Linked DNA regions of Homo sapiens. The protein of the gene in region 4 purifies or fractionates together with the protein of the main gene of each other region. This does not show direct contact. Each region holds a gene or a part of one and is shown on either strand. Other genes may lie near its edges. The genes, in order: ZC3H14, PPIG, TBL2, SARNP, PRCC, PPP2R2D and SEPTIN7.

The links.
Region 1: the proteins of SARNP (region 4) and ZC3H14 purify together in Homo sapiens (affinity purification with mass spectrometry; 2 studies listed by BioGRID and IntAct, with this or other methods). This does not show direct contact.
Region 2: the proteins of SARNP (region 4) and PPIG purify together in Homo sapiens (affinity purification with mass spectrometry; 2 studies listed by BioGRID and IntAct, with this or other methods). This does not show direct contact.
Region 3: the proteins of SARNP (region 4) and TBL2 fractionate together in Homo sapiens (co-fractionation; one large-scale study listed by BioGRID). This does not show direct contact.
Region 5: the proteins of SARNP (region 4) and PRCC purify together in Homo sapiens (affinity purification with mass spectrometry, with the first as the bait; one large-scale study listed by BioGRID). This does not show direct contact.
Region 6: the proteins of SARNP (region 4) and PPP2R2D purify together in Homo sapiens (affinity purification with mass spectrometry; 2 studies listed by BioGRID and IntAct, with this or other methods). This does not show direct contact.
Region 7: the proteins of SARNP (region 4) and SEPTIN7 purify together in Homo sapiens (affinity purification with mass spectrometry, with the first as the bait; one large-scale study listed by BioGRID). This does not show direct contact.

What each region holds. Positions count from the first base shown.
Region 1 is NC_000014.9:88,569,537-88,573,036, reverse strand, and holds part of ZC3H14 (zinc finger CCCH domain-containing protein 14), read right to left. Parts: intron 1,954-3,500; coding exon 1,913-1,953; intron 1,008-1,912; coding exon 812-1,007; intron 460-811; coding exon 30-459; intron 1-29. UniProt on the Homo sapiens protein: RNA-binding protein involved in the biogenesis of circular RNAs (circRNAs), which are produced by back-splicing circularization of pre-mRNAs.
Region 2 is NC_000002.12:169,636,351-169,639,128, reverse strand, and holds part of PPIG (peptidyl-prolyl cis-trans isomerase G), read right to left. Parts: intron 2,717-2,778; coding exon 1,606-2,716; 3' UTR 1-1,605. UniProt on the Homo sapiens protein: PPIase that catalyzes the cis-trans isomerization of proline imidic peptide bonds in oligopeptides and may therefore assist protein folding. May be implicated in the folding, transport, and assembly of proteins.
Region 3 is NC_000007.14:73,572,080-73,575,579, forward strand, and holds part of TBL2 (transducin beta-like protein 2), read right to left. Parts: intron 2,435-3,500; coding exon 2,304-2,434; intron 2,044-2,303; coding exon 1,859-2,043; intron 1,393-1,858; coding exon 1,241-1,392; intron 892-1,240; coding exon 765-891; intron 1-764.
Region 4 is NC_000012.12:55,797,225-55,800,724, forward strand, and holds part of SARNP (SAP domain-containing ribonucleoprotein), read right to left. Parts: intron 3,406-3,500; coding exon 3,338-3,405; intron 1-3,337. UniProt on the Homo sapiens protein: Binds both single-stranded and double-stranded DNA with higher affinity for the single-stranded form. Specifically binds to scaffold/matrix attachment region DNA. Also binds single-stranded RNA. Enhances RNA unwinding activity of DDX39A.
Region 5 is NC_000001.11:156,774,035-156,777,534, reverse strand, and holds part of PRCC (proline-rich protein PRCC), read right to left. Parts: intron 1-3,500. UniProt on the Homo sapiens protein: May regulate cell cycle progression through interaction with MAD2L2.
Region 6 is NC_000010.11:131,907,508-131,911,007, reverse strand, and holds part of PPP2R2D (serine/threonine-protein phosphatase 2A 55 kDa regulatory subunit B delta isoform), read right to left. Parts: intron 1-3,500. UniProt on the Homo sapiens protein: Substrate-recognition subunit of protein phosphatase 2A (PP2A) that plays a key role in cell cycle by controlling mitosis entry and exit. Involved in chromosome clustering during late mitosis by mediating dephosphorylation of MKI67.
Region 7 is NC_000007.14:35,804,057-35,807,556, reverse strand, and holds part of SEPTIN7 (septin-7), read right to left. Parts: intron 1-3,500.

The DNA.
Region 1 (3,500 bases), on a different chromosome or scaffold from region 4:
TAAGCCAGAATTTAAAAGTACATACAAACCTCCATACTCATTTTCTCCGAGTTGTTTCTAAAGAACGGACTATACGTTTCTTCTAAGCTGTTAAGCACCTCTGGTTCACACAAACGTCCTGTTTCATATACCCAACTACTCTGCATATCAAGCTGCTTGGCAGCATGAATACTATTCTGCTGCTGTTGAAATTGCAACCTGTTTAAATGAACACCACTATCTGCATTTCTACTTGCAGGTGGTCGATAAATTTCAATAGAAGGGCGAGAAGAACCATATGTAAGTGTCACTGTAGGTTTTTTCTGAGATAAGGGATTCTCCTGCACAAAGTTGAGGTCTTCGTCAATGAGATCATCTGGTTCTGGCTTAATATCAATCACATCTTCAGAGGGTGCTGGCTCCCTCAAAGGTTTCACTGTTGACATTAGTCGGGTTGCAGCTCCATCATCGTAAGTCTGTCTATTTAAAAGAACAACAAAATGTATTACAGCCAAATTAGGGCAATTATCACCAAATCTTTAAAGAATGTTTACTTGAAAAATTTCAATGAAAAAACTGAGGATACTCCCTTTACATATTCCATTCAAAACTGCTTTGAAATTGCACTTTCTTTCAACTTTGATTTACTAAATTTGTGATAAAAGATAATCATACTTAGATCTTATCCATTATTTTATTCAAAAAACTACTCACGATCACTTCATTGTTTCTAAAAATTGCTGAGAACAGCAAACTGAAAGATATAAAAACTAATATAAATGTCACATACACAGAGCCATCTGCCCCCAGCAGGTCTACACCAGACTCTTACCTGACATTTGTGGTTTTTGACTCCTGCGAACTTGTAGAAACTCTGGAATCTCTTTTTTCAGGTCTCGCGCTAGGAATGGCAAGTGGTGGCACTGCAGCTTCATGCCTCCTCTCATCTCCCCGACTGAAATTGCTCTTGTTTGAAGGCACGTTACTATCAAAGATGTTGGTATCAGAAGACTTCAGACTAGAGGGTTCTGAAAAGAAAAATACAGTCCTTTTAATCTATTTTTATTTCTTATTTTTATTTATTTATTTATTTTTGAGATGGAGTCTCGCTCTGTCGCCAGGCTGGAGGGCAGTGGCGCGTTCTCGGCTCCCTGCAACCTCCAAATCCCTGGTTCAAGCGATTCTCCTGCCCCGGCCTCCCAAGTAGCTGGGATTACAGGCATGTGCCACGATGCCTGGCTAATTTTTGTATTTTTAGTAGAGACGGAGATTCACCATGTTGGTTGGCCAAGATGGTCTCCATCTCCTGAGCCCATGATCCGCCCACCTTGGCCTCCCAAAATGCTGGGATTACAGGCGTGAGCCACCGTGCCCGGCCATCTATTTTTATTACTTTAAGTCGTTTCCTTCCTCATCACCAATTCAAAAGCAGTATGTTTATTGTAGAAAATTTTAAAAATATAATAAAAATCACCAATTATCTCAAAGGTGATTTTTCGGGGGAAGAGCATATATACACATTTTTTAAAACATGTATCTTATGCGTGTATATTCTGTTATTCTTCCACAACATTATTTTTAATAGTTAAATATTATTCCACACATGGTAATACAACAATTTCGTTTATTATGACTGAACTTTTAAATTGTTTTCAATTATAAAATACTGAAATATCCTTGAGGCTAAATCTTTGCACATATATGTAATTATTTCCTTCGGATAAAGTGCACTGCTCCCTCTCCCACACTTAAATTATCTTTGAATTATGTTAAATTTACTGCTCTTAAGTTCATAAAAGTATGTGCTTTCTAAAAAAGTTCAAATGAACCGTTTTGAAATTGATGGGTTTTTCCCAAAGCACTATGACTTTAGAAAGAAACAAATCATATGCCATAGCAAGCAGAAATTAAAAAAAAAAGTTATGAATCTTACCAGTTGTAACAGAGCGAAGTTTATCTAATACACCATGAAGCCTGAGGAAAAAAACAAAAAACAAAAATAAACCTTCTGTTAAGAAAGATTTCATTTCAACTGTCACTCTAAATTTATGACATTATATTCAGAGATAATTTTTTAAATTTTTTTATATTTTTATTATTTTTAAATAGAGATGGGGTTTCACTGTGTTGTCCAGGCTGGTCTTGAAGTCCTGGACTTGAGAGAACCACCTGCCTCAGCCTCCCAAAGTGTTGAGATTACGGGCGTGAGCCACCGCACCTAGCTGAGATAAATACTGATAAACTGTATTTAGTGAATAAATGGTATGAACTTTCAAACTTCACATTTTTAAAAAAGGGCTTTGTATAAATCCTACAGAAGTCAATAAAAAATTGTATTTTTTTCTTCACTGTTTTCAACATCTAGCCTCTGCAAAAATATGGGAAAGAATATCATCTGACCAGTCTTAGTCTACAAAATATGTCACCCTGTTTGTAAGTACTAAAGATTTACTGTAGCTTACAGTAAAACAAGTATCATAAACATGTAATATTGCTTATTATTACCACCATTTAAGCAGCTTATATTAACTGCTTAAACTAGATGGTGTCTTGGACAACTTAATTCTGAGAGGTTAAAACAAGTTATAATCTCAAACTATGCTATATCATTTCACTCTATTACTTTCAAAACTGATGCTGTAAGGCTGTAATCTTGCTTGTAACATAACCTGTTTTGGTAGTTATAAATGAGGTACTTTGCCTTACATCCCTTCCCAGTACCTCTCAAAATATGCCAGAAACCTCATGTTTCAATGAGAACCCTAGTCACATGCTACTGTCCCCACGGACACAATTACTTCAAGGCTCCAAATAATCACAATAGTCTGTTTGGGGCTGGTGTTAATGAACACTAACTTAAGAAAGCAAAGTGCCAAAATGGGGACATCACCCTTTGCTTCACTACATGTTAAAGAACTCAATTTATGGCCAGATGAGAATGTTGAATTAATTTGGTTTTAAATTCATTTGGTAGTCTGTTTTAAAAATCTAAGTATTCTATCAAGTTATCGGAGAAAAGGATCTACTCGGTCGCTTTAGAAAAAAAAATAGTACTCACAATAATGGTAATTTTCCCAGTCAAAAGACCCACAGTCTTTTTTTGTGGGGGGCTGGGAGGGAATAACCTCTGGGGACAAATTGTAACAAATGGGTTGGGTCACCCACAGTGAGGCAGCAGTGTATCATAACAACTGATGACCACTATACAATGTTCTTCAAATTTGTGCAATGTATAAACCCAGAGAATTCTGTGCAGAATTTCAAGACGGTTGATAAGCATACAGTTGCCTACTTGGGCAAAAACACCTTGAAGACGACCTTTGGTATAAAGGCAAGAACTTAACCAGGCTCATCTCCCCACTCAGTGCCTCCTCTTGCACTCAAATTCGGCAGGCCACTTGCTCACTTCTGCTACATCATCACCTTTCACGGTAACTGGTAGTTCCTAGCCTGAGAAGCCTAATAAAGTATTTCGTCTGTCTATTCTCAGCTACATCATTATCCTCCAGCCCTCATCCTCA
Region 2 (2,778 bases), on a different chromosome or scaffold from region 4:
TTTCCAAGCAATCTTATGGTCATTACACTATTCATTCTGCAACAGCTACCACAACGCCAAATATATCAATATTGCATTAATCAATAGTGGGAAGTATCATGTTAATAATTGCTTTATTCAGTACAAATAGCATTGAGTAGCTACTGGATTTACCAAGAAGCTACCTTGGTAACAGAGTTGACACTACACTGACAAATATTAAAGTACAAAACTCTCTAGAGAATCCTATTAATTGGAATTTTGAAATTCCTTTTCAAATGAGGCAGGTTTTATGTTTGCTGGATGTTCAATGTTTTATTTAGAAGAGATTACAGAATAAAAGGCCACACATCACAAAAATGGCAAAATACAACACCCAAAACTCTAAATGGACTTTGGATATGTTTAGTGTTTAACTCTGTAAACTATCAAAATTTGCAACTTTCTACTCTACTCTATATGGCAATGTTATACATGCCAAGTTAAAATAACATTAACAGTAATGGTATAAAACCACCTGAAGAGAAAGAAACCAGAGTCATAAACATGCTATAGCCTATCGTGATACATATATAGAAAAGATGCATTTTCTTGCCATTTGGAACTCACAGCTATGAGAGTTAGAGAAGTCAGTTCAATTAAAACAAACAAAATCCATGCAGAGTTAACACTCAATTCTATATAGGTTGGAGGCCAAAAAAGAGAAATCTTAGAAGTTAATGTCTCAATACTAACAATTTTTAGAATCTGTATAGCTTAAGGACCTGCACAAATGGTATGTTTTAATGAGAAAAGCTTTTTTTTTTTTAAAGTTTAGAGAAGGGTAATTAATAATTAAAACGTTCCCAAAACTCTTCAAACCAAAAGCAACACAGAACTGAGAATCACAATCTGATTTTCCAAGGTATAGTTCCTGTCAAATGCTGTATAACAGCAACTCAAGCTCAATCAGTACATCAACTGAAAAAAATTACTCTTACGATTTTTATAGGCAGTTAAGTAAAACACAACTAGACAGGAAAAGCATTAATAGGAAACAAGCTATGGCTCGAACTATAAAGAATAGAGTATGAAGTGCAATATAAATACATCTATTTTAAAGCACAAATTACTATAAAATCAAAAGTGATGATTTAAGATCTCAGGTTATTAGGACCCTGCTTCTGTGTAATTAAAAGAAACCGCTGCAAACCTCTATTTATAACGCAATCAGAAAATCTATACAAGATGTCTTCTAGTGGCTTCTAAAGTTACTTTAATCATGAGAAACACAAGCTTTTGCAACAATGCATTGCAACCATTCCAAATGGCTGACTAAACAAATTAGGATGCTATTGGCTAATTGTTGCAACACAGTAATGCATACATAAAATAGTTAAACACAGCACACAGTACTACACCAAAGTGTTTTTCTCATGTCGAGTTTATTAAAACTTTAGCAGTACAAATTATCCAGATTGCAGATTATCAAAAAATCAACTCAATGAAATCCACATTAAGAAAAAAAAGGACAAACATAAAACAATCCAAAAACAATGAAAAGGAAAACAACATAAAGGAGATTCATTAGCAAGTCTCTCAAACTTAAAATCCGAAACAGAATGGAAGTAAGTTTATATAACTCACTCATCCGCTTTTGTCTTCATCTGTTCCAGGGCTTGATTCATGATCAAATTTTTTATTTTTTTCATGTACATGGTCATTTTCTTGACCTTTTGATTTTTGGTTTTCTTTTTCCACTGAGGATCTGATCTTCTCATCCTCCTTATTTTTCAACATGGAGGACTTTAATTCATTGTCCTGACTGCTTTGTTTTATTTTTGAGAAGGGACTTTGATCTCTATCAGCCTTTTTTTCCCTGCTGTTATTTGAGCTATTATGATCACGACTTTTAGAGTACATTCTTTTCTCACTCTCAGAATTTTCTTTTCTGTGTGAGCTCTTACTCTCTTGGTTTCTGTATTTGTCTTTGTTTCTGCTTTGACTTTCTTCTCTCTCTGAGCTCCGTGAGTCTCTCCTCCTTCTCCTCCTATCTTTACTTCTTGATCTTCCTGGTGGTGTTCTTCTCTCTCGGCTTCGTGACCGTCCTCTTCTCCTGTATTCCTGTTCTCTGTATCTATGGTACTCCTTGCTTCTGCTGCGATCTCTGTCATGGGTTCTTGATCGCACTCTTCTGCTTCTGTCCCTACTTCTGCTTCGTTCTCTTGTTCTGCTATTATAACTGTGTTTACCTTTAGTTATATCACATTCTCTACTCCTGGATTGTGCGCGTCTATCCTTTTCCTTACTTTTACTGTGATCATGCTCATTACTCTTTGATTCTAACTGTTTAGACTTCTCTTTACTTCTACTCCTTTCCTGATCTTTTCCTTTAGAATCAGACTGCTTTTCTTTTTCTTTAACATTTTCATGATCCCTTCCTTTACTCCTTGACCTCATCCTCTTTTCTTCATTTCTATTATGTTTTGAATCTCTTTCTTTACTCTTTGATTTCTCTTTGCTCTTACTCCTACTTTTAGATTTGGCCCTTTTCTTCACTTTGTTTTTATACTTGTCATCTTTTTCTGAATTTCTTCTGATGTCTCTCTCTTTGCTGTTAGATTTATGGTCTTTAACTTTCTTCTCCTTTTCATTTTTTCTGTTTGGACTCTCAGATACATTCCTGTGATCTGTTATTTTTCTCTCTTTTACTCTAACTGGACTTCTCTGATTTTCTTTTATTTCATTCAACTCACTCCTAAAAAATAAGAAAAAGAATTGGGGAAATGTTATTAGGAAAAGAACTGTAGATATTATTAG
Region 3 (3,500 bases), on a different chromosome or scaffold from region 4:
ACCACAACAAAAAAGTTCTTTTATGTATGTGACCTCAGTTTATCTTCTAGCCTTGTTCTAAGATATGTAACATCCCCGCCCAAAGGTGGCTTGGCACAGTGGCTCACGCCTGTAATTCTACCACTTTGGGAGGTCGAGGCAAGAGGATCACTTGAGGCCAGGAGTTCAGGACCAGCCTGGGCAACATAGTAAGACCCCATCTCAACAAAAAATACAAAAATTAGCCAGGTGTGGTAGTGCACGCCTGTAGTCCCAGCTACTCGGGAGGCTAAGGTGGGAGGATGGTCTGAGCCTGGGAAGTCAAGGCTACAGTGAGCTGTGATTGCGCCACTGCACTCCTGCCTGGGCGAGGGTGAAACCGTCTCAACAAACAAACAAACAAAAAACAAAAATTAGCTGAGTACAGTGGCACATGCCTATAGTCCTGACTACTCAGGAGGCTGAGCTGGGAGAATAGCTACAACCCAGGAGTTTGAGGCTGCAGTGAGCTATGATCGCACCACTGTGCTCCAGCCTGGGTGACAGAGTGAGACTAATTTTCTAAAAAACAAAAACACTGAAGATGAAGAAATAGCGACTAAGGACATGGGGCGACCTGCATGAAATCCCACTACTGCAAGTGGGGAGAGCTGAGACTTGAAGCTCGGGTTCCTGACCCCACCCCGTATGCTCTTCCCACGCGATGAAGCTGGCTCTCTGTTCTGTGCCTGCTCCCCAGCCCCAGCCTCTCGTGGTCCCAGACGCCAATACCCCTCCTTGCCCACCTGCCACAGGGAGATACAGCAGCGTGTGTGTTGTTCATCTGGTTGGTGTTGATGGTAGACAGCACTTGACCCTTCAGGCTCCAGATGAGGACAGTGGTGTCACTGGAGGCAGTCATGATAAACTTCCCTGAGCGGGAAGGGAGTGATGTGGGTCACGGGCAGTGACCTGACCAACTGTCACTCTCCAAAGACACTTACAAGGCCTCTGCTGCCCGAAGTATACATGTCTCCTCCCAGGCCAAGGGTCACTACAGATAAGGACTCTGCTGAAGACTGTGGCCCTTCCCCACCTTCCCTAGGGACCTGGTGTGGCCCAGGGACTCCAGGGGAGCACAGAGCCAGGCTGTTCAGAGCCAGGGACCCCTTGTTCCTCTCAGGTTGAGCAGAACTTTCAGGCAGCATTAACTCATTGAGGAAATAGAACTGGATCTTTCCTTCATGCTTTGGGCAGGCGCCACCCTCTGAATGCCTCTTACCTGTGTTAGCAATGCCAATGTCGATGACAGGCGCCTTGTGCTTTTTAGGGAAGTCCTCTGGGGTGGCTGTGAAGGTGTAGCCCCCATCCTCCCGCTTGGTCATCTTGAAGACACGGAGGGTGTCCCCGTTGGCCAGCCAGACGATGAAGGCTCTAGAGACAGGCAGCAGACAAGTCACGCTCTCACTGGACAAAGAGGCTCTGTGTTCCAGGTCCTGTGCTGGGTTCTCGGGGAAGTCAAGATCTCTCCTCATGCCCCACAGTCTAGCCTTAAAACTTAAGCCCCTGGTTCCAAATCTCATAAAACTCCTCAAAAGGTAAGATTCTGATAGCTTTGGCTCCTTTAGTTTCTCTCTAGGGTTTAGAAACTAAGGCTCATCTGGAAGCCAGGCCAAGGTATTTCCAGGTAGGAAGAGACCTCCCCCTGTTTCCTTGCTGTATAGCAGCCCAGATCTCCAGGGAGCCCCAGGCAGCGCGCAAACTATGTGGATGCTCTTTCTGGCACCCCAAGGGAGGCCCTGGGTCCAGGTCCCTCCTCACTACCTCAAAGCAGATATGGGAAGGCCAAAGCCTGGGACTAGGCCTCTGCAGGCAAACCTGAGGCTCCGTCTTGTCCCACCTGCAGTCAGGGCTGAAGCGCACCAGGGTGGCGTGGTCCAGCTCCACGTTGGCTCTCATGCTGCGGTGCTCTCGCTGCAGGAAGTCCTTGGTGCTCCAGATGCGGATGGTGCGATCATCTGCACAGGTAGCCAGGTATTTGCCATTGCTGCTAAAGTCCATGCAAGATATGTTCCCGCTGTGGCTCTAGGGGAAGGGTGGCAGGAAGTGTCAATAGGAGCTCCTGGGGGAGATGGGGAAGCCAAACCTGGAGCCGGGGAGATGGGGCCCTGTGGCCTGGATTAACAGCAAGCTGAGATTGGGCTGCGATGAGAGGGGACAGAATTAAGCACCCCCGCTGATTCTGATCAGAGGCAGGAGAGCCTGTAACATGCATGGAATACTCCAGAGGAAAAGCCTGTGGGGCTGAGTCTCAGGGTGCACGCTGTGCCAGGTACCCCACGTACCTTCAGAGCTGCAGCCAGGAGGCGGTGGGTGAAGTTGTGTTGTTGAGGCTTCTCCTTCCGAATCCGCTGATATTGTTTCTGCTTCTTGGATCCCGAAGATTTGTCAGGTGGAAATCCATTTGCTTTTTGGCCTATAAGGAAGGGCCATGTTGTTCTCCAGTTACTCACTGATAAGCATTTACTGCCCACCTATGATGAGCCAGGCATTGAGTGGAACAGCAGGAGATTAACCAGATATGGCCCTTGTCTTCTGGAGGAGAATGAGTGTGATATGGGCAAAAACAGAGGCTTTGGCTGGCTGGGTATGGTGGCTCATGCCTGTAATCCCAATGCTTTGGATCATTTGAGCCCAGGAGTTCGAGGCTGCAGTAAGCTATGATCACAACACTACTGCATTCCATCCTGAGTGACAGAGCAAGACCCTGTCTCAAAAAAAAACAAACAGAAAACAGAAACAAAACAGAGGCTTTGGAATCAGACCTGGGTTTGGATTCTGTCTCTACTACTGACTGACTACTGAGGAGGCTGTTTACAGTAAGTCCACAGAGCACCTTCATGTAGAGTGGAAAAGGCGCACTCTCTGGGTTGGGTGATGCTGCTGGGCGGGTACACAGCACGGCCAGTGGAGTGTGGATCCTTGGCCAGACATCCCTATGTAGGGAGTAATGTGCACAACCATCTCTAGCGGCCCTGCTTTGGGTAAGTTAGTGAATTGCTCTGGACCTTGGTTTTTTTTTTCTTTTCTTTCTTTCTTTTTTTTGGAGACAGAGTCTTGCTCTGTCGCCCAGGCTGGAGTGCAGTGGCGTGATCTCCGCTCACTGTAGCCTCTGCCTCCCAGGTTCAAGCAATTCTTGTGCCTCAGCCTTCCAAGTAGCTGGGATCATGGGCGTGCACCACCATATCCAGCTAATTTTTTTTTTTTTTTTCAGATGGAGTCTCGCTCTGTCACCCAGGCTGGAGTGCAGTGGCGTGATCTCAGCTCACTGCAAGCTCTGCCTCCCGGGTTCACGCCATTCTCCTGCCTCAGCCTCCCAAGTAGCTGGGACTACAGGCGCCCGCCACCATGCCCGGCTAATTTTTTTTTGTATTTTTAGTAGATGTGGGGTTTCACCACATTAGCCAGAATGGTCTCAATCTCCTGACCTTGTGATCCACCCGCCTCGGCCTCCCAAAGTGCTAGGATTACAGGCGTGAGCC
Region 4 (3,500 bases):
TCTTCCACCCTTTTATTGGAAATCCCTGGACTGAAGACAAGCAATGGGTGCCCCCTGCTGACTATAACGAAGTCCTACGATATGTAACCGCTTTAGCTGGTTGGGGGTTGGGAATCAAACTAGAAACAGGTATATTTTTGGAGAACTTCAGGCCAAACATGAAGAAGGGGATCTCCTTTTAAATAGTCAAGGAATCTAAACTAGCCCTGGCTATTCTGACGTTTAAAGAAATTTCTAAACGCTTCCCATTTCCTTGCCATCCTTCCCTAACCTTGTCTTATAATTTAGGCACAAAAGGCTAAAGTTTAATGTTTTACTTGAAATCCAATGCCATCAAGAAAGTAGTACTCTCCATCAACCCCAGTGTAATGACTTCCTCCCCATTACCATTCTGAAGCACAGTCAATGCAGTGCACATCATGGCAGAAAGGGAACCCCAGACGGGAAGTTTCCTTCCATTCTATTACAATTCCCTTAGGCAACTAAACTCAAGCGCAATAAATAAACATCGAATTCTGGGATGCATGGGAAATTTCCACTCTTCACTGAGAAATTTCTCTCCTACCCAATCACATAAACAACATTCCCTGAAATACAGAGACCCAGAATCTTTTTGTACATACTTCAGTCTAACCACAACTATCCTCTAAAAATCAAAAACGATCACCCCACCCACTTCAATTTCCTTGTTTCAAAATTCATTAATAGAATTAAAGCCCCCTGAACAGAATGCACATTTTAAATATTCTATGAATAATGAACTTCAAACTTTCGAACCTCTATTTTTTAACCCACAGAAGCCAATTATCATGGTATTCACTTGATCTTCTTTCTTGTTCCAGAAATCCCCATAACATTTCTATTTTAAAGCTATCTCACAAAGTCATTTTTTCAAGGCACTATATCTAATTATAAACATCTTATGATGGAAAGATAACTAAATGGCTTTAGAAAGTAGTATTTGATAGGCTGGAAAGTAGTATTTGATAGGCAGGTGATTACTGGCTCACACCTGTAATCCCAGCACTTTGGGAGGCCAAGGCAGGTGGATCGCTTTGAGCTCAAGAGTTTGAGACCAGCCTGGCAAACACGGCGAAACCCCATCTCTACAAAAAATACAAAAAAAGAGCTGGGTGTAGTGGCTCGTGCCTGTAGTTCCAGCTACTCAGGAGGCTGAAGCTGGAGGACTGCTTGAGCCGGGAAACGGAGGTTGCAGTGAGCCAAGATTGTGCCACTGCACTCCAGCCTGGACAACGGAGTGAGTCCCTGTCTCAAAAATAAATAAATAAAGGGATATTTGACAAAAATCTATCAAGATGTTAAATGTACATCCTCTGTGATGCAGCAAATCCACTGCTAGGAATTTACCCTGTGGGTATACTTGTGAGTATAAATAATTAGAAAAGGACATGCAGAACTACATTTTTTTTTAATGAATAATCTAAATGTCCATCAACAGAAGACTGGTGAAATAAATTACTGTTTATCCATAGAATGCAATACTATTAAATGCTAGAAAGAACAAGGTTCTAAGTTGATAACTAGTAAATCTGGGTGATAGGTAGATGAGAGTCTATTACACTAGTCGAACTTTTGTATATACTTGTAATTTCCCATAATAAGCTAAACAAAAAGAGACCACTTCCTAGGATAATTATCCTGACTTTACAGGGTCTACTGAGGATAAAATGACAGTACATGTAAAACATTCAGAACAATGCCTAGCATATAACTCTTAAGAACAATGCCTAGCATATAACTAACACTTACATAAGAAAATGATGATATAAAAAATTTCCAGATGTGAAAAAAAATCAAGTGTGCACAGTGTGTGTATACGTGTATCTATATATACACATACATACATATACACATGTACAGACCCCATATATAAAATCTTCCAAAAGTATGTACTGTTCTAAAAACCTCAGTAAAGTCAGATCTGAGAATGGATACAAAGAGTACTTAATTCTTAATTGATATACTCCACTATGTACTGACTTTTTACTTGTAAATACACTGCCTTTTATAATTAAATGCACTAACACAACTATGAGGAACAAAAATGTTCAAAGTTTAGGACTCAACGGCTCTTAATGTACTATAGTACAAAATGGCCAGACATTTGTGGAAAAAGCCCCAAATTAAAGATGTTTAGGATCACCCTTGTGGAACAGTTTAAACAAATCAAGATCTACTTTCCATTCTAGCACTTTGTCCTCCCATCCTCCACTGTAAATCAGAAAGCAAGAGAGAACAGAGTGCTACTTCAGAAACATAACCTCTACCCAACACCCTCCTCCCTTACAAAACTCCTTTATATAGAGTGTCACACTTTTTTTTTTTTTTTTCCCGAGACAGCTGTGGCTCCCAGGCTGGAGTGCAGTGCCACAGTCTCGGCTCACTGCAACCTCCACCTCCCAGGTTCAAGCAATTCTCCTGCCTCAGCCTCCCAAGTAGCTGGAATTACAGGTGCCCTCCACCACGCCCAACTAATTTTTGTATTTTTAGAAGAGACAGGGTTTCACCATCTTGGCCAGGCTGGTCTTGAACTCCTGACCTCGTAATCCACCCACCTCGGCCTCCCAAAGTGCTGGGATTACAAGTGTGTGCCACCGTGCCTGGCCTCAGTTTTACACTTTTCCAGAAAAGTGCAAAACTCTTATGAACAGTTAACAGAATGGGCCGGGCACGGTGGCTCACACCTGTAATCCCAGCACTTTGGGACGCCAAGGCAGACGGATCATTTGAGGTCAGGAGTTCAAAACCAGCCTGGCCAACATGGTAAAACCCTGTCTCTACTAAAAATACAAAAATCAGTCGGGCAGTAGTGGCACACACCTATAATCCCAGCTACTCGGGAGGCTGAGGCAGGAGAATTGCTTGAGCCTGGGAAGCAGAAGTTACGGTGAGCCAAGATCACGCCACTGCACTCCAGTCTGGGCAACAGAGTGAGATCCTGTCTCAAAAAAAAAAAAGTTAACAGAGTTTACACAGTTTTACACTGCATACAGAATTGTACAGATTCTCTATAGAGTAACAGAATAATCTATTATGGTGACCCTACAAAAGAACAACAAAGGCTAGGAGAATTAAACTATGTCTGGTCTTGAAGTCACCTGGTCCTCATTACCTATTACATAACTCAGAGACAATTTGCTTTACTTCACTGGGACCAAGTACTTTGAAGTAGTCCCTTCTAAAAAACAAAAAAATGACCTAATCAGAAAGGAAAAGGCCAATGGGAACATGTAAGAGGTAAACAAAGTTAAACATTAAATACATTAAGAAAAGAGCTGCCTGCTCTGTACTCAGATTATAAAAAAGGGATAATTACACATCAACAGTTTTTTCAGGGGGTTCTTCCTCTTTGACAGGGAGCTCAATGGGCTTTGTTTCTTCTTCCTAAAACCAAATGAAACAAGGTGGTTAACATAAATCTAAAGAATAAATATCTATCAAAAGAAGAACATCAGAACTCCAAAATAAACCAGTCTCTC
Region 5 (3,500 bases), on a different chromosome or scaffold from region 4:
TTTTTTTTTTAACCCGTAAGGGAAATCCATCTTAGTATCTAAATGTGGGGGATAAAGGAAAAGGGTGGCAAAGGAAAGGACAACCATCCACCAAGTGCTTCCTATGTATCAGGCAATTTACTCATTTTTCATTTAATTCTTATAATAACACTTCAAAGTAGGCATTATTATTATCTCAACTTTATGGTGAAGAAAGTAAGGCTCAGAGAGATAAAATAGGATGGGGCAGAACCAGGATCAGAACCAGTTCCAGTGCCCGTGCTTTTGCGGGAACACCAAACTGAGCTGTCTGCTGTCCAGGTCTGAGATTCACACTCACTAGATCCCACACGACACAGCTGAGAGAGCATGAAGCACAAAATCAGAAGCACTGGTTTGAGTCTCAGCTCTGCCCCTCACTGGCTAAGGGATCCCGCTATTTAACTTCCCCAAGCCTAAGGTGCAAATAGTACTTACCCATGTCACAACCACAGGAGCTACTGCCAGTGAAAATGATACAAACTAAAATTCTAAACAAAGTTCAAAAATTATTATTTTCTCTGGTTTGCCAAGATATCAAACTCACCCAAGAAAAGACTTAAGCACCTGGCACCTAAGCATTTTCTACCTTTTCTTTCTGTTCTAAACTAACTCTCATTGCTCCTTACAGACTCCTCACCATCTCTCGTCTTTTGACCATGAAGACTTATCTCCTTTCTGGCAGACCACACAGAACAACCTCACTATGGGGTATATAAGGTTTTCATGGATTCCCCAAATACGTTTAAACTTTGACATCATAGGCAACAGGTCCAATGGCAATAATCTGAAATAAACAAATTTTACCCAAATTTAAGATGATTACATTTATAAAACTATACAAGCATATTCTTATTTTTCAGATCCTTTGAAAAACAAAAAGTGGCTACTGTAAGACTGTAATAGGCAAACTGCTCCACAGCTAATAGAATTGAAGGCCAGATCCACTGTGGAAAGAAAATTCAATTTCTCTGTAAATGTCACAAATTGTTTCCATTATACTGACAACCTGAGTTTATAGTTTAAAAGCACACACACAAAAAAAAAACCTCTATAAAGACTTCGGAACAGTCTATTATTTCTAGATTTAGAGGATTGCTATGGCTACTCACAATCATTCTTCTCTTTGAACATCTTTTTCCCTTGAGACATGGTCTTGCTCTGTTGTGCCCAGGCTGGAGTAGAGTGGCGCAATTACAGCTCACTGTAACCTCAAACTCCTGGGCTCAAGCAATCTTCCTGCCTCAGCCTCCCAGGTAGCTGGGACTACAGGCACTTGCCCACCATGCTCAGTTATTTTATTTTTAAAATTTTTTTGTAGAGATAAAAGGCAGGGTCTCACTCTGTTGCGCAGGCTGATCTCAAATTCCTGTCCTCAAGCAATCCACCTGCCTTGGCCTCCCAAAGTGTTGGGATTGCAGGCATGAGCCACTGCACACCCAGCCCGAACATCTTATATAAAACTTCTACCGACCCCTATTATGAATCATCTCATGACACACCATAAATGACAGACTCCCTGAAACAGAACACTAAAATGACAACTTCAAAAATGAGGCAAGGCGGGGATGGCCAGGCACAGTGGTTCACCCCTATAATCCCAGCATTTGGGGAGGCCCAGATGGGAGGACTGCTTGAGCCCAGGAGTTTTGAGACAAGTCTGGGCACTGTAGAGAGACCTCATCTCTACCAAAAAATTTTAAAAATTAGCCGGGTGCGGTGGCTCACGCCTGTGATCCCAGCACTTTGGGAGGCCGAGGTGGGCAGATCACAAGATCAGGAGTTCGAGACCAGCCTGGCCAATATGGTGAAACCCCATCTCTACTAAAAATACAAAAATTAGCCGGGGGTGGTGGCGGGTGCCGGTAGTCCCAGCTACTCGGGAGGCTGAGGCAGGAGAATCACTTGAACCCGGGAGGCGGCGGTTGCAGTGAGCTGAGATTGCACCACTGCACTCCAGCCTGGGCGACAGAGCGAGACTCTGTCTCAAAAAAAAAAAAAAAATTTTAAATCGGCCATGTGCCTGTAATCCCAGCTACTCAGAAGGCTGAGGTAGGAGGATTGCTTGAGCCAAGGAGGCCAAGGCTGAAGTAAGCTAAGATTGTGCCACTACACTCCAGGCTGGGCAACAGAGCAGGACCCTGTCTCCAAAAAAAAAAAACAAAAGAAAGAAAAATGAGGCAGGAGGATCACTTGAGCCCAGGGGTCTGAGGCCAGCCCAGATAACATAGTAAGACCCCCATCTCCACACAAAAACAATTTTTTTTTTGAGATGGAGCCTCCCTCTGCAGCCCAGGCTGGAGTGCAGTGGCGCAATCTCGGCTCACTGCAAGCTCCACCTCCCGGGTTCACACCATTCTCCTGCCTCAGCCTCCCGAGTAGCTGGGACTACAGGCACCCGCCACCACGCTTGGCTAATTTTTTGTATTTTTAGTAGAGATGGGGTTTCACCGTGTTAGCCAGGATGCTCTCGATCTCCTGACCTCGTGATCCGCCCACCTCAGCCTCCCAAAGTGCTGGGATTACAGGCATGAGCCACTGCACCCGGCCTTTTTTTTTTTTTTTTGAGACAGAGTCTTGCTCTGTCACCCAGGCTGGAGGGCAGTGGCACGATCTTGGCTCACTGCAACCTCTGCCTTCCGGGTTCAAGCAATTCTCTGCCTCAGCTTCCCAAGTAGCTGGGATTACAGGTATGCGCCACCACGCCCAGCTAATTTTTATATTTTTAGTAGAGATGGGGTTTCACCATCTTGGCCAGGCTGGTCTTGAACTATTGACCTCGTGATCCACCAGCCTCGGCCTCCCAAAGTGCGGGGTTTACAGGCGTGAGCCACCATGCCCAGCAAAAAAATTGTTTAAAAACATAGCCAGGTACAGTGGCACATTACTGTAGTCCCAGCTACTGCGGAGACTGAGGCAGCAGGGTTGCTTGAGCCCAGGAGGTAGAGGCTGCAGTAAGCCATAATCGAGACACAACATTCCAGCCTGGGCAACAGACTGAGACCCTGTTTCATTGAAAAAAAAAGAAAAAAGAAAAGAAAAAGGGCTGGGCACAGTGGCTCATGCCTGTAATCCCAGCACTTTGGGAGCCCGAGACGGGCGGATCACGAGGTCAGGGGTTCGAGACCAGCCTGACCAATATGGTGAAACCCCGTCTCTACTAAAGATACAAAAATTAGCTGGGTGTAGTGGCGGGCGCCTTAATCCCAGCTACTCAGGAGGCTGAGGCAGGAGAATTGCTTGAACCCGGGAGGCGGAGGTTGCAGTGAGCCAAGATTGAGCCACTGCACTCCAGCCTGGGCAACACAGAGAGACTCTGTCTCAAAAAAAAAAAAAAAAAAAAAAAAAAAAAAAAAAAAGGTGACTCAAAAAAAGAAAGAAACTCCGCACCCATTAAACAGTAACTCTTTATCCCCACCTCCCCCCAGCCCCTGGTAACTGCTATTCCACTTTCCATCTCTATGAATTTGACTTTTCTAGAT
Region 6 (3,500 bases), on a different chromosome or scaffold from region 4:
GACACTGAGGTGATGCACAGGGCGAGGGACGGGGGCTGAGACACAGAGCTCCCGTGTCCTCTCTGGGTGGGCCCCCCTCCAGAAACATCTGGAAGCTATCTTCAAACCCAGTCCATACATAGGCAAGACTGTTTGGCCACTGGTGATCAGCTTAACCTTCAGCTCCCCCACCCCTCACCACTCCCCGAGGTTGGGGATCGGGGCTGAAAGTCCCAACCTTCTAATCCTGCCTAGGTCTTTCTGGTGACCAGCCCCTGTTCTGAAGCTACCCAGGGGTTGCCGGCCCTTAGCCAACGCATTACGAAGACATCACTGACGAGCCCGAGGATTTTAGGAGTTGTGTACTAGGGAAGACCAAATACATATTCCACAGTATCACACAAGCTGAACTAGCCCTTTTTTTCATGGAATGCCATTTTTATTTGAAAGAACAACTGACCAACTTTGGTTATTAAGAATTTGGTATCTGGCAGAAATTGACTTGAAAATGAACACACTGCGTCCCTCACTTCACAGAAAGTAACTGACAGTATTTGTTACCAATGATAAAATCCAAGCTTTCAAGAGAAAATTAGAATTTTGGAAAACTTTTCTCTACTACTGCTAATTTGACAGTTTCTCACTTTTTCTTCTGATGAGATCAGTGATGACATTAAAAAATAGGATTTTCTTCAAGTTTACATAATGGAATGTGTTAACATTTAGAAAAAAAAACAACTCCATGTAACAATATTTCCAAACAACCCCCGTGTGATGTTACCAAATCATGTCCATGAGCAAAAGACCCACTCTGAGCACAAGACAGACCTCAGGGTTCTGACGGAAGAGAGTACAGAAACGTCACTGACTCCGAAAGGCCGGCACACTCAAACACGCTGCCACCTGGCGAGTTATGGTGCATCGCTAAGAGCCTCCAGGATGACCCCTCTTCTGCCCACATGGAAGTGTGACGCCACATTTTCCTTACACATTTCAATAAAGCAACTGGAACACACGGAATGCAGAAGCAGGTCTGAGAATCCAGCCGTCACCTCTTAAACCTCATATTTTAAAAGGATGTGCAAAAGTGTAAAACAACACTGTTCTTCTTGCTTAATCTTTTTGTTTTTGAAAAGTTGTTTCTCATTAAAAAGGTTATGTTAACATGTAGTAGATTCTTTTAAAGTAAAATAAATATTGTAAGTTGTTCTGTTTTAATTTCAAATATAGAAAACATCAACAGCGATAACCAGCACAAACAAAGGCTCTCTGGATCCTCAATATAACTATTAAGAGTATAAAATTATTCCAGCACCAAAAGACTTTGCAAACCAACTCTAGGTCAGGGTTTAGCAAACCACAACCTGGGCGACATCTGGCCAGCTGCCTGTTTTCTGTAGGCATGCTCCTGTGGAAGCAGGGCACAGAGCCACGCCCATCCATCTCTGCAGGGTCTATGGCTGTCTTCCTGCTAAAGGCAGAGTTGAATTCAGTCGTTGCAACAGGGACAGGATGGCCTGAAAGTCTAAGATACTTACCATTTGGCCCTTTACAAAAAAGCTTGGCCACCCCGAAACTAGAGTAAGCCCATTTTCCCAATCTTTATTATTGCAGTAACTTCCTATCTCCATTCTTACCCACCACCATCCACTCTCCAAAGGGCAGAGTGACCTTGTTAAAAACAAAGCTGATGTCGCTCCTCCGCTTAGGATCTGAAAAGCTCACAATCACTCAGAGTCCTGAGCACACGATTCAAGTCCTTTATTCATCATCCTGTGGCCCCAGCCAGCCTCCTGCTCATCACAGCCACTCCCTTTTCTGCCAGAGGACCATGCCAAGCACTGACCTCTCAGAACATACCATGCTCTGTCCAACCTCCACACCAAGCACTCTCCACCTGGAACATTCTCCTCCCCTTCCCTTCCTCCCTCTTCTTATACCCTGATGTCCTCCCCTCCACTCCCTACCCAAGTCTGTGTACTGGGTACTTCTTCACATTGCCTCAGTGTGCTCTGGTCCAGCCATGGTGCAAGGACCCACCTGCTTGTCTGTGTCCAAACAGCGTTTCCTGAAGGCAAGAACTGCATTTCTATTTCCAACAGCCAGCACTAGCAGCCCTTTGGTATGCTGTCGTGAACTTTTCAGATGTGCCAAGCTGAAAGCTGGCCCCTGCATTACCCTTCATTTTTCTTAAACTGGCTCCCTGAAGTGACAGAGTCAGCTATTTTCCTATGCAAGAGGGTCTCTTAAGACAACAGCCTCTGAACAGTTACCAGTTAACGTGTTTGTTTGTCAGAGCTTTCCATACATTTTCTGGAATCTTCACAGCAACCCTGTAATGGTCACAAGTAATAGTACCCGTTTAACAGATGAGAAAAGAGTAAGTAACTTCCCAAGTTAACACAAAGCCTGAAGAGGGTGAAAAAGGGATGTGTACCAAATTCCACGTGCACAATTCCTCTCCATCACCTGGTAATATCATGACATTCCATATGCTGACTGACATCCAGTGGGAGAGACGAGCCTAATAATACATGTGATAAAATAAGGGAACCACAAGCAGGACACAGCCAATTGCTAAACAACATGGAACACAGTGTGAAAGGGAAATCTGGAGTCTAAGACGACACTGAACGCTGAGGGGAGCTGGAGCAGGGACTCGCCAAGTGGGATTGGAGGTGGATTTAGAAGGATCAGCAGGGCTTAGGGAATGGACAGGAAGCAAAATAAATACTCTAGGCAAAGAAAGAAACAGGAGCAAAGATCAAGGGATGGGAATAATCACTGAATAATAACGTAAACATTAAGAGGCCAGGCCCAGTGGAAGGGATCTGGGTAGATGGACATGAAGCAGGTAAGGAAAAACAAGAAACTGCTATTTTTGTGTTTAAATATAGCTAAAACCAAGCCCCAATACTTTAAAATACAAGAGAATTAACAGTTGTATCTAATACTTGAAAAGCACTTTTCAAGTTGCAACAGCACTGCACATTGTTTGATCTTAACAAAAAGCTTCTGATTTAACTTCTAGATAAGCGAGCTGAAGCTCAGAAAGGGGCCCTCAGAGTTGAAAACAGCAGACACAAACCCAACCTGGAACTTCCCATCAGAACAGCAGACTGCTTAAAATCAGGGAACGTGGAAAATCACCAGGTATGATTCAATACCACCACATATCTTGTAAACTTAACTTCACGATGTAACGATGACCAGGCCAGCCTCCTGAGCGTTAAGATGTGGCTGTACTAAGCATGATGAGTCTGTGAATCTTTTTTTTTTTTTTTTGATATGGAGTCTCGCTCTGCTGCCCAGGCTGGAGGTGCAGTGGCGTGATCTCCGCTCACTGCAAGCTCCGCCTCCTGGGTTCATGCCATTCTCCTGCCTCAGCCTCCCCAGTAGCTGGGACTACAGGTGCCCGCGACCACACCCAGCTGATTTTTTGTATTTTTTTTAGTAGAGACGGGGTTTCACCCTGTTAGCCAGGATGGTCTCGATCTCCTGACCTCGTGATCCGCCCGCCT
Region 7 (3,500 bases), on a different chromosome or scaffold from region 4:
CCCGTCTCTACTAAAAATACAAAAATTAGCCGGGCGCGGTGGCGGGCGCCTGTAGTCCCAGCTATTCAGGAGGCTGAGGCAGGAGAATGGTGTGAACCCGGGAGGCAGACCTTCTTACAGCGAGCCGAGATCGCGCCACTGCACTCCAGCCTGGGCGACACAGAGAGACTCCATCTAAAAAAAAAAAAAAAAAAAAAAAAAAAAATTCAGCCGGGCATGGTGGCACATGCCTGTAATCCCAGCTACTCGGGAGGCTGAGGCAGGAGAATCACTTGAACCGGGGAGGCGGAGGCTGCGGTGGCTGAGACTGTGCCATTGCACTCCAGCCTGGGCAACAAGAGCGAAACTCCGTTTCAAAAAAAAAAAAAAAGTTTTAAAAAAGCAATTTCAGAAATGAAAACAGAAACATCATAACATCCATGACCACAGCTTTCTTGATTGCTATGGTGTCAAAGTGTCTGATACTTCCTGGAGTCAAATACTTGTTAAATCAATGAACAAAGTTTACAAAAGTTTCAAATTACCACTGCAGGAATATTTCAAATATATTTTATAAAGCACAGCAAAACTGGTGGAAAATAGTTTTGATTTTCCTGAAAACAGTCAATCAGAGCCAAAGATTTTCAGGGCCCCATCCCAGGCCTATCATTTATCAAAGTGTGAAACACTATGAGAATCTGTATTCTTTGAAAAACACCATGACGTTCATTTTATTTGAAATCTTATATAATAAAGAAGTTATAGGGATGGGGAGACTTTAGAAAGTTACCCAGAAAAAACACTTTAAATGAGTCAACTAACAAAAACAAAAAAACTAATTCATGGCTATTAGAAATCTTATCAGTGGTTACCTGGGGCAGTAGAAGGAGAACTCCAACAGGGCACAAGAAACTCTGGGATGGTGGAAGTATTCTCTATCTTGATTAGAATAAAGGCTACAAGATGTGTGTATGCACATCAGCAATTCATTGAACTAAATACTTAAAATCCACGTATTTTTTTCTATGAAAGCATACAATAATGAAGTTACTTGATAAGTCGGAAAGCATTTGGAAATGTAGACTCCTGGGTCCCTCTCCCAGAGATTGCTAATCAATGGGTCTTGTAGTGGGAACCAGTTAATCTGCATTTTTAACTCCAAGCCATGGTTGACCCTTCAACCATACTTTAGAAAATAATGACCTAGCATAATGTTCTATGTCCAGTAATTACTGATCATGCTTTGCAAAAATATATCAATTAATGATAAACTTTTAATACAAAAAAATCTAGGTAATTTTGATTCCCAAGTTTAGGAAATACTAAGAATATTAAGTGGTAGGAGTTCCAGGAAGAAGTAAAAAGTAAGACAGTTAAGGAAGCTTGTTCCTTCTTCCCCGTCTCCCACAATCCTTCAATGGCTCTCCATCACCTAGTGCAGTGGTTCTCAACCAAGGATGATTCTGCTCCCCCACGTGACATTTGGCAATGTCTGTAGACATTTTTTTCATTTCACAACCAGAGAGAGCATGTGCTGCTGGCATCTTAGCACGATGACAGCAGGGATGCTGGTAAATACTGTACAATGCTCAAGACAGCCCTCCCCTCCCTCAAATAATTACAAAACCTCAAATGAGAAACTCTGACCTGGAGCCTCACCTCCAATAAAGCTACCAGAAGTAGTCAGTTGTGTCCCAGAGTTAAACAAAACAACAGAATTAAGATGTTACAACTTCAGGAAAGTCCATTTTTACTTCCAGATCAGTGGGGAAGGAGGAAGAATATCATCTTTATATTTCACATAAAGCAAACAAACATTGAATAAAATGCAAATGACACATGAATACTTAAGACTTAGAAAACTTCAAAATAACGTAAGCAGGAGCAGCTTCAGGCTATCCCCCCAATCACAGGGGATACTTAATTCTCAGCTTTCAAAGTATAGTATTTTTAAAGTTAACACTGGCCTAAAACATAATACTGTACATAAACTTTAGCATGACAGTCTGTTGCTGCAGCATAGTTTAACCTAGTGCTATGCAAAGTGTGGTCTGTGGACCAATGAGCCAGTCTGTGAATTATCAGTTTATGTCAGAGAAACACAAATTGAGAGCACAAAAATGGAAAATTTAATAGCAGAATAATTTTATGTCTATTGAAACTAATAATAAAAAATTGGGGCTTATAGTTTATCTTTCTTATTCCATTTCCACTTTTTTTATTTGCAGTATAGTCATGCAGTATGTCCAACGTTTGGTCAACAATGGACATTTATGACAGTAGTCCCATAAGATTACTATGGAGCTAAAAAAATTCATATCACCTGTGATGTCATAGCAGTCACAAGTTCATAGTACAGCACATCATCTTTTCTATGCTTAGAAGCACAAACACTTGGCCGGGCGTGATGGCTCACATCTATAATCCCAGCACTTTGGGAGGCCGAGGCAGGAGGATCACTTGAGGTCAGGAGTTCCAGACCAGCCTGGCCAACATGGTGAAACCCCGTCTCTACTAAAAATACAAAAATTAGCTGGGCGTGGTGGCGAGTGCCTGTAACCCCAGCTACTTGGGAGGCTGAGGCAGGCAAGCACCTGTAATCCCAGCTACTCGCGAGGCTGAGACAGGAGAACTGCTTGAACCCAGGAGGCAGACAGAGGTTGCGGTGAGCCAAGATTGCACCATTGCACTCCAGCATGGGCAGCAAGAGCGAAATTACGTCTCAAAAAAAAAAAAAAAAAACAAAAAAAGAAACACGCTTACCATTTGTCATAATTGTTTACAGTAGTCAGTACAATAACAAGCTATACAAGCTCATAGCCTAGAAGCAATAGGATATAGCCCAGGTGTATAGTAGGCTCTACCATCTAGGTTTGTGTAGGTAAAATACTCTATGATTTCTCAATGTACCGTATTGTTAACAACGCCTAACTGTAGTTTTTAAAATTACAATCTAACCTACTCTGACTGGTGTATCTATTGAGTAGCAAAGCCAAGATTTGCATCCATATCTAACATCAAAGCCCATGTTCTAAATCATTATTAAGATTTTGAACTCAAACCCCAATGTGTAATCCCTACATCTGGATAGCTGGACTGCACCAAGTGTAAGTCACAAGGATTTAGTGTGTGTCTGGTCTACGGCCTTCAACACTTAATGCCAGCCAAGCTGCCTCTTTGGCCCCTCTTCCCCAAGCCCATGCTCAAAGCTTAGTCTCCAGATCTCTGATGATGCAAAAGGACACAGGAAGACAAAAACAAAGAAAAGATTCATCCTCAAGGCCTAAAGCAGAGTCACCGAATGCTACCCTTTTCTTTTGGAAGCCACCCTGGTTTCTGGCTATGGGGGATAACATCCTCTCAAATAGGAGTAGGCCTCAGATCTCTCTAACCATGCGAGCTACATGGAGTACAGGATAAATGAATCCAAAGTAAGAAAAAGCCACACGGACTTAACAGTCTTTAATTTTAAAGTCTTCCTTCCTCACACCAAGACCTCCAACCCCTAACATAAGGTTCGA